2 linked regions of the Homo sapiens genome follow. The protein of the gene in region 1 binds, or shares a complex with, the protein of each later gene. Each region holds a gene or a part of one and is shown on either strand. Other genes may lie near its edges.

What was found.
Region 2: the proteins of PHAX (region 1) and NCBP1 are in contact, whole or in part, in a cryo-EM structure (PDB 8PNT), measured with the Homo sapiens proteins. Residues at the interface, in NP_115553.2 of Homo sapiens: Ile114, Asn115, Asn116, Ile117, Trp118, Gly119, Val121, Leu122, Glu124, Gln125; in NP_002477.1 of Homo sapiens: Cys380, Lys381, Pro384, Pro388, Gln389, Leu391, Ala392, Thr395, Phe417, His420, Leu421, Asn423, Phe424, Gln425, Arg427, Trp428, Ser429, Asp432.

What each region holds. Positions count from the first base shown.
Region 1 is NC_000005.10:126,598,631-126,602,375, forward strand, and holds the start of PHAX (phosphorylated adapter RNA export protein), read left to right. Parts: upstream 1-2,316; 5' UTR 2,317-2,332; coding exon 2,333-2,428; intron 2,429-3,745. UniProt on the Homo sapiens protein: A phosphoprotein adapter involved in the XPO1-mediated U snRNA export from the nucleus.
Region 2 is NC_000009.12:97,631,636-97,635,380, forward strand, and holds the start of NCBP1 (nuclear cap-binding protein subunit 1), read left to right. Parts: upstream 1-2,185; 5' UTR 2,186-2,246; coding exon 2,247-2,280; intron 2,281-3,745. UniProt on the Homo sapiens protein: Component of the cap-binding complex (CBC), which binds cotranscriptionally to the 5'-cap of pre-mRNAs and is involved in various processes such as pre-mRNA splicing, translation regulation, nonsense-mediated mRNA decay, RNA-mediated gene silencing (RNAi) by microRNAs (miRNAs) and mRNA export.

The DNA.
Region 1 (3,745 bases):
AAAACAGTTCTGTATTAAAAGTGGCAGAGGAGCCAGGTGCTGTGGCTCACGCCTGTAGTTCCAGCACTTTGGGAGGCCAAGGAGGGTAGATCAGGAGTCAGGGTGGTCAGGAGTTCAAGACCAGCCTGGCCAACATGGTCAAACCCCGTCTCTACTAAAAATACAAAAATTAGCCGAGCCTGGTGGTGCATGCCTGTAATCCCAGCTACTCGGGAGGCTGAGGGATGAGACTCGCTTGAACCCAGGAGGCAGAGGCTGCAGTGAGCCGAGATTTTGCCACTGCACTGTAGCCTAGGAGACAGAGCAAAACTCTTGTCTCAAAAAGAAGAAAGAATTTAATAGACAGGAGGCCACCCATGCCACGTGGGAGACAGAGTTATTACTCAAATCAATCTCTTGGAGAATTCAGGGACTAGTGTTTTTCAAAGATAGTTTGGGGAAGGGATGGAGTGGCTAAGCAATGGGTTCTTGCTGCTTATTGGTTGGGGATGCAGTCATAGGGGTATGGGAAATTGTCCTCAAGCAGCTCGACAACTTCTGTGTGGGAACCCAGAAGCGGTTAGAGGTTCAGGTGGAACCATTGGTAGTCAGACATGCAAAATATCTGAAAAGATATCTCAAAACGCCAATCTTAGGGTCTACAATAGTGATATTATCTGGAAGAGTAATGGAAAAGTTGCATACCTTGTGACCTCTGGGATAATGACTGGCAACGGTTTATGTCTACACCTTAGCAGAATTCAGCCTCCTTTATCCGTCTACCCTGGTGGTCTCTTACTAGCTTTACAAAGGCGGTTGGCTTTTGGGGAAGGGTTATTATCATTTAAACTATAAACTAAATGTCTCCCAAAGTTACATTGACAGGCCCAAGCACAGGAATAATTAAGGGCAGCTTGAAGGCTAAAAGCAAGATAGGGGTTGGCTAGATCAGATCTCTCCCACTGCCATAATTTTCTCACTGTTATAATTTTCGCAAAGGCGGGTTCCAAGATAACCCTTAAAGAATGGGGTGGGTTGAGGGAAGGGCCTCTCAGGCCGAGTGAACAGCAAATGCAGAGGCCTGGCCTGAGGAACAACAGGTTCAGCGCGCCAGCGGTTAGGCAGGGGGACACACTAGGACCAGTGACCAGATGCCCAGTCCACATGACCTTGTTTGCCATGTGGCAAAGTAAAACAGAGGTTCCTCTTCAAAAACTTTCCTCCCCGTCTAATTAGGAATAAATAGTAACTTCTCTTAAAAGCAAAATTTATTCAAAGATCTGTGCTAACATTCTTAAATATCTGCTAGCCATAATAAAAAAAAATGTACTTTATGTTCTTAGCTCCCACAATTTAGCCTAAATATTTGCCCTGGCATGCTTTTACTAGTCCAAGCAAGCATTAGGTCATAGCCTGTTCCTCTTCCTTATTTAAAAGTGTTTTCATCTTTCTCAGCATTCCACAAGTTACTTCCTCCTTCCTTTGTTCTCCTCTACCTTTGCCTCTTTTAAAAAGTTCTAAGTTGCTAGCCAATCGGGACAAATACAAAATGTGAGGTCCGGTCCAGCCAATAAAAACCAGCCACAGCAGTAAGGTAAACACGTCAGGTTATAAATGACCCTGTCTCCTTTTGTTCAGTGTACTCTCCTGGCAAAACTGCTGGCGAGTGTACCCTTTCTGCAGAAAGTAAAAATGGCCTTATTCAGTAAGTTAAATTTATGTTGCTATTTCTTTACGACACCGGAAAACAAACATTTCAAACACCATGCTGAGAACTCAGTCCTTGTTTTGGGGAGGGATGCACTTGGAAGATTCGAGCTAAGGTACAATCCTCCCTAGGTATCCGCGGGTCATTGTTTTCAGGACCCCCACAGATACCAACATCCGCCATGCTCAAGCCCCTTACATTATGTGGGGGTGCACGGTGGGTCCTTCCCATCCGCAGGTTCGGCATCCGTGGATGGGGAGTGGATACAGAGGGCGGACTATACAGCTTGAAAGGCTTCCCTGGAAGCAATATGTAGAGTGGATTGTGGAGGAGCAAGAACAGAAGCGGGGAGGCTTGTCCAGAGCATACAGGGGAAGGATGTACGGCCAAGGGAGGAATCCCAGACGACCGCGATACGTGACATATTTATGTTTGCACGAAAATAAAGTTTGGAAGAAAAGTGTTGGGGGAACAAGGGATTCATTTTCCCGGGGTAGTTGGAATGCAATGGGACGCCTCAGGCCGCTGGGACAGGCTGGCCTCCGCGCGGGGGCGCCCGAGCAGCCGAGCCGCCGGGCCTTCCGGCTGCCCCGCCGGAAGTGCTCTCCTGACCCGCCGCTGTGCAGCGCAGCGCACCGCGGGAAGATGGCGTTGGAGGTCGGCGATATGGAAGATGGGCAGCTTTCCGACTCGGATTCCGACATGACGGTCGCACCCAGCGACAGGCCGCTGCAATTGCCAGTGAGTGTGAAAGGAGGGTGGGTGATCGTGGCTGGGCGCGCGGAGCCTGGGCCCCGGGGAGCGCGCAGGCAGCGGTGAGGGTGAGGGGTGGGAGCTAGGAGCCCGGGCCAGAGCGAGGAGCCCAGGCTGTCGGGTCAGTGGCCGCAGAAGGGGCGAGCAGACGTCCCCCAGGCGGGCTCACGGAGCCCGGGCTGCGGGGGCCGAGGGGCGAGGGGCGACGGCGGCAGCGGCAGCGGCTGGCCGTGCGAACCCCGAACTGGCTGCTCCCTGCGAGGCGGGGCGCGCGAGCCCTGGCGCCTCCTGGAGGCCGGCTTGCGGCGGCCTCTTAGACGTCTCACCTCCGCCTACCGCTCTTTCTTTTCTAAACTTGGGGCTTCCCCACTCCATCGCCGCTAGGTAACCATAAAGGGGCAGATTTTGCCAAATATGTAGCATCTAGGGACATCAGCCTGAAACAGCCTGTGATGCTCATTTTCTCCCTGAGCCGAAGGGAGACTGAGGCCCAGGAATGAAGTTTATCGCTCACTCAAAGATCTGGTTTTCCATGTTTCCACCGAACCTAGCTTTGTCATGCGGTACCATGGCACTAGGCTTTTGCATTAGCCTCTCTGATTTTGTTTGTTGTTTTGAGGTGGTCTCACGCTGTTGCCCAGGCTGGAGTGCAGTGGCGCGATCTCGGCTCACTGCAACCTCCGCCTCCCGGGTTCAAGCGATTCTCCTGCCTCAGCCTCCCGAGTAGCTGGGATTACATGCGCCCGCTGCCACGCCCGGTTAATTTTTGTATTTTTGGTAGACGCGGGGTTTCACCATGTTGCCCAGGCTGGTCTCGAACTCCTGACCTCAAGTGATCGGCCTGCCTCGGCCTCCAAAAGTGCTGAGATTACAGGTGTGAACCACGGCGCCCGGCCACATCCAGCTAATTTTGTATTTTTAGTTGAGACGAGATTTCTCCATGTTGGTCAGGCTGGTCTCGAACTCCCAACCTCAGGTGATCCGCCCGCCTCGGCCTCCCAAAGTGTTGGGATTACAGGCGTGAGCCACCTCGCCCGGCCTAATTTTTGTATTTTTAGTAGAGACGGGGGTTCTCCATGTTGGCCAGGCTGGTCTTGAACTTCCGACCTCAAGTGATCCACCCGCCTCGGCCTCCCAAAGTGCTGGGACTACAGGCGCGAGCCACCGCGCCCGGCCCAGCTTCCCTGCTTTCTAAACGGGAATTTGTCTTGACTGCCTTGGTAGGTAGCAACCTCTTTGAGAGGGCGTTGGTGCCAGGCTGCCTGTGTTCAGATCCTGGGGCCACCGATGTGTGACCTACAGCAG
Region 2 (3,745 bases), on another chromosome or scaffold:
GAGTTCAAGACCAGCCTGGCCAACATGGCGAAACCCCATCTCTACTAAAAATATACAAATTAGCCTGGTGTGGTGGCGCATGTCTGTAATTGCCGCTACTTGGGTGGCTAAGGCACAAGAATTGCCTGAACCTAAAAGGCAGAGGTTACAACGAGCCAAGACCGTGCCACTGCACTCCAGCCTGGGCAACAGAGCGAGACCCTGTCTCAAAAAAAAAAAATCATACTCCAATGACTTCTCAATTCACTTGGATAATGTCCAAAGTCCTCACAGAGCACCTTCCCCCTACCTCTCTGATCTCATCTACCACTCTCCCGTTGCTCACTACCTATGATGGCACTATTTGTGGGTATTCCTGAATGGGTCGTTAGAATATATCAGCGCCAAGAGAGCAGGGGTTTTCCTTTGTTCACCTCTACATCCTCAGCATTCAGAACTCTGCCTGGCACCTAGGAGGTGCTAAATGCTAATAAATATAATATTCGTTGAATGAAATAAAACAGTGATTGGGTAACCAAAGAAGGCCTCACTAAGGACCTGACATTTGAGCTGAGACCTAAGTGACCAAGAGCCAGCCACGCAGATTTAGAACCAGAGACCTTCAGGTAAAGGAAATAGTATAAGTTCCTAAAATAAGAACAAGCTTGACTTATTGTAAGAACAGAAAGAGTGGTTGGAGTACAGTGAGGAGAAGTAGAACCCCACAGGCCATGGCATGGAGTGTGCAATGGAAAGTCGTAGGAGACTTTTTTTTTTTGACACGGTCTCACTTTGTTGCCCAGGCTGGAGTGCAGTGTGCGATCACCGCTCACTGCATTCTCGACCTCCTGGGCTCAAGGGATCCTCCCACCTCGGCCCCCAACCCTCCCCTCGAGTAACTGGGACTACAGGCGCCAAACACTAGGCTCAGCTAATTTTTTTTTTTTTCCTGTAAAGACGGTGTTCGCCTTGTTGCCCAGGTGGGTCTTGAACTCCTAGGCTCAAGCGGATCCGCCCGCGTCGGCCTCCCATAAGTGTTAGGATTACAAGCGTTAGCTACCCCGCCCGGCCGTCATAGGAGACTTTTAAACAAAGCAGTAACACGATCTGATTCTGGATTTGTGTTGAAAGCAGAGCAGGCAGGGTTTACAGATAATTGTTATGTAAAAAGAGGGAAAAGAGCTAAGAAAGACTCTAAATTTTTGGATTAAGCGGCCGACGGATGACGTCATTTACTGAAATGGGTAAGACCGAAGGAGAATTAGGCCGGGAGAGTGAAATTTCAGATGGCCATGGACAAAGCAGATAAGCCAGTATGGTGCTCATAAAGACATCAGGGGAGGGGACGCTCACACACAGGCATATAGGTACCCAATAACCCTTGAAAACAGATTACTAAAACAATCATTTGTTCCTTCCTAAGCAAACAACTTAAGGAAAATGACGGCCAGCCGGCAAGCCCGGAGCCGCACGCTCGCGTCAGGGCCGGCCTTTCCATACCAAGGGGCGGCACGTGCGGCACCGCCTCCCGCCCAGGCCCCACCCCGCATGCCGAGCTTGGCCCAACCTCTCCTCCCACTTTTCCCAAGGCGGCAAAAGCCGGAAAGTGGGAGTAGATGAGCACATACCCGCCAGTCCTGATCCTTTCTAAGGTCTCTCTTCCCTGCACTGTCTCCGCCTAGCAATTGTCACTGCTCACCGCCCTCGAGCCTATTCCCCCGCCGCGTATTTGGGTAGAAAAGCTCGCTCGTGACGTCACCAAGCTCCGGAAGTCTCCTGGCGTCGGCGCAAGGGCCGCCGGGAAAACCATTGAGAGGCCACCGGGAAACCATTGAGAAGCCCCGGAGGACCGGCCTGAGCGGAGGCGGAGACTAGAGCGGCCGCCGGCACGACCCGCCTTCAGGCGTACGACGACCGCGGCCCGGGGGCTCTGAGTGGCCAAAGCGGCGGCACTTTCTGCGTGGCCCCGGAAGGACATAGAGCGGAAGGCGGGAGAAAGAAGTAGCCGGCAGGCGGAGGCAGCCCGAGGGGGCGGTTGCATGTGTGCCAGACGTTCGTAGCCCACTGAGCTTCCTCACGCCGGCTGTCGCAGCGCCTAGCCCCACCCGGCGGCCTCTCCTGCGCTTCCGGGGCCGTGGCGAGCTAGTGCGCCTGCGTGCCGGCCCATCCGCGCGCCTTGCAGCTGTCCTTGCGTCGGCCAGCGGCCAGACAGTTCCTGCAGCGCTTACCGCCTGGCCTCTCGGTTCCGCGGCGCACCGGAGGGCAGCATGTCGCGGCGGCGGCACAGCGACGAGAACGACGGTGAGTGCCTGCGGCCCGGCCACGGAGGCCGCTCCCGGTTGGGAGCCGAGGCTCGGCGTCTTTGGGTGTCCACGGAAGAGACTGGAAGCTCTTCTCCCCGGGAACGTGCGGGGAGCCGCGGAGGGAAAGAGGAGAATATGGTGGCGGTGTGGTCGGGCGGCTTCTAGAAAGCGACTTCTCCCCCGCCCCAGTTCTTTGAGTCAAGGGCCGATCCTCGGGAAAGAAGGCCTGGTGAACCCCATGGGTAGACCCTTGGTCTCTAAGGATGCTTCAGAATTTCGTCCGTAAAACCACGGAGCAGGGAAGCACACCTGTGTCTGTGCTGCCGCCTCTTAGGGACCCACTGGTCCTAGTGTCTCGTTTTAACCTTCAAAGCTGCACCTGAAAAGGGCTCGGAAGAATTCACTGAAGGAAAGGACTGAGAGATCTCATGAGTTGCAGTCTGAACTCTGTTCCGGTAGTGGTTATCCGTTGATTTCACTTCTTTCAAGCTGCAGGGAAAGAATATTGTCTTACCTGCGCCCAAGAGGTCCCTAATAAACAGACACAGGTTACTGCAGATTTTGAACTGGCCGTAAGCGCATTTCCCTTGTGTGAGAGAGAGTGCTAGAAAACTAACTTCAGGCCTCTGAGAGAGTTAGAACAGGGGTTCCCATCTCCGTTTGGATGATTGTGCTCGTGGAGATCAGTGTTGCCTTCATAAAGATGGAATAATTCTAGTTTTAACAACAACAAAAAAAAGATGCTTATATTACACATAAGCCTTACAATCGGTCAAAAACACAAATCCACACACCAAAAAAGTAAAACTTAGAGTAATTCTATTGTTAACATTTTAGTGTATTGTTTTTTGAAGAGAGTGTATAGTAGTGGTTAAGAGATGAGACTTTGGAACCAGAGGGTTTAGGTTCAAAGCCAGACCCTACCATTTACTTGGTGATCTTGTCCAGGTTATGAAATCTCCTTAAACTTTAGTCTGTAATACAGAAGTAATGATATTTATATCTTCTGGTTTTTGTGAAGGTTAAATGAGGTAATACACATCAGCAACAATGATGTTTTATCATTTGCCAACGCTTAAGAGGCGGTAAACGTTAGCAGATGCTGTCAATGTAAGAAAAAAACCCATAACAGACATTTTAAATTGAGTAAATTTTATCTACTAACGTTTGTCTCTCCTTGAGTGTTGTGGCAGTTGAGGTGGAGGCAGAATCGCATGCATTTAGTTTTAATAGTGAAACACCAGATTTCTACGAAGGAATGGCTTGAGAGGATATTCTAGTCCAGCTTTCTATCTGACACCTAAGGGTCTAGAGACTGAGCATAACTAAGATGGAGGGACAGCTGTCAGTTCCCAAACACCAGCAAGAGCGAATCCAGTCCGGGGCTCTCTTCACTACACAGGTATAAATTAAATAACTATGCTGCGTGCTTTGATTTCTAACACGAGGTTTCTTGTGTAACC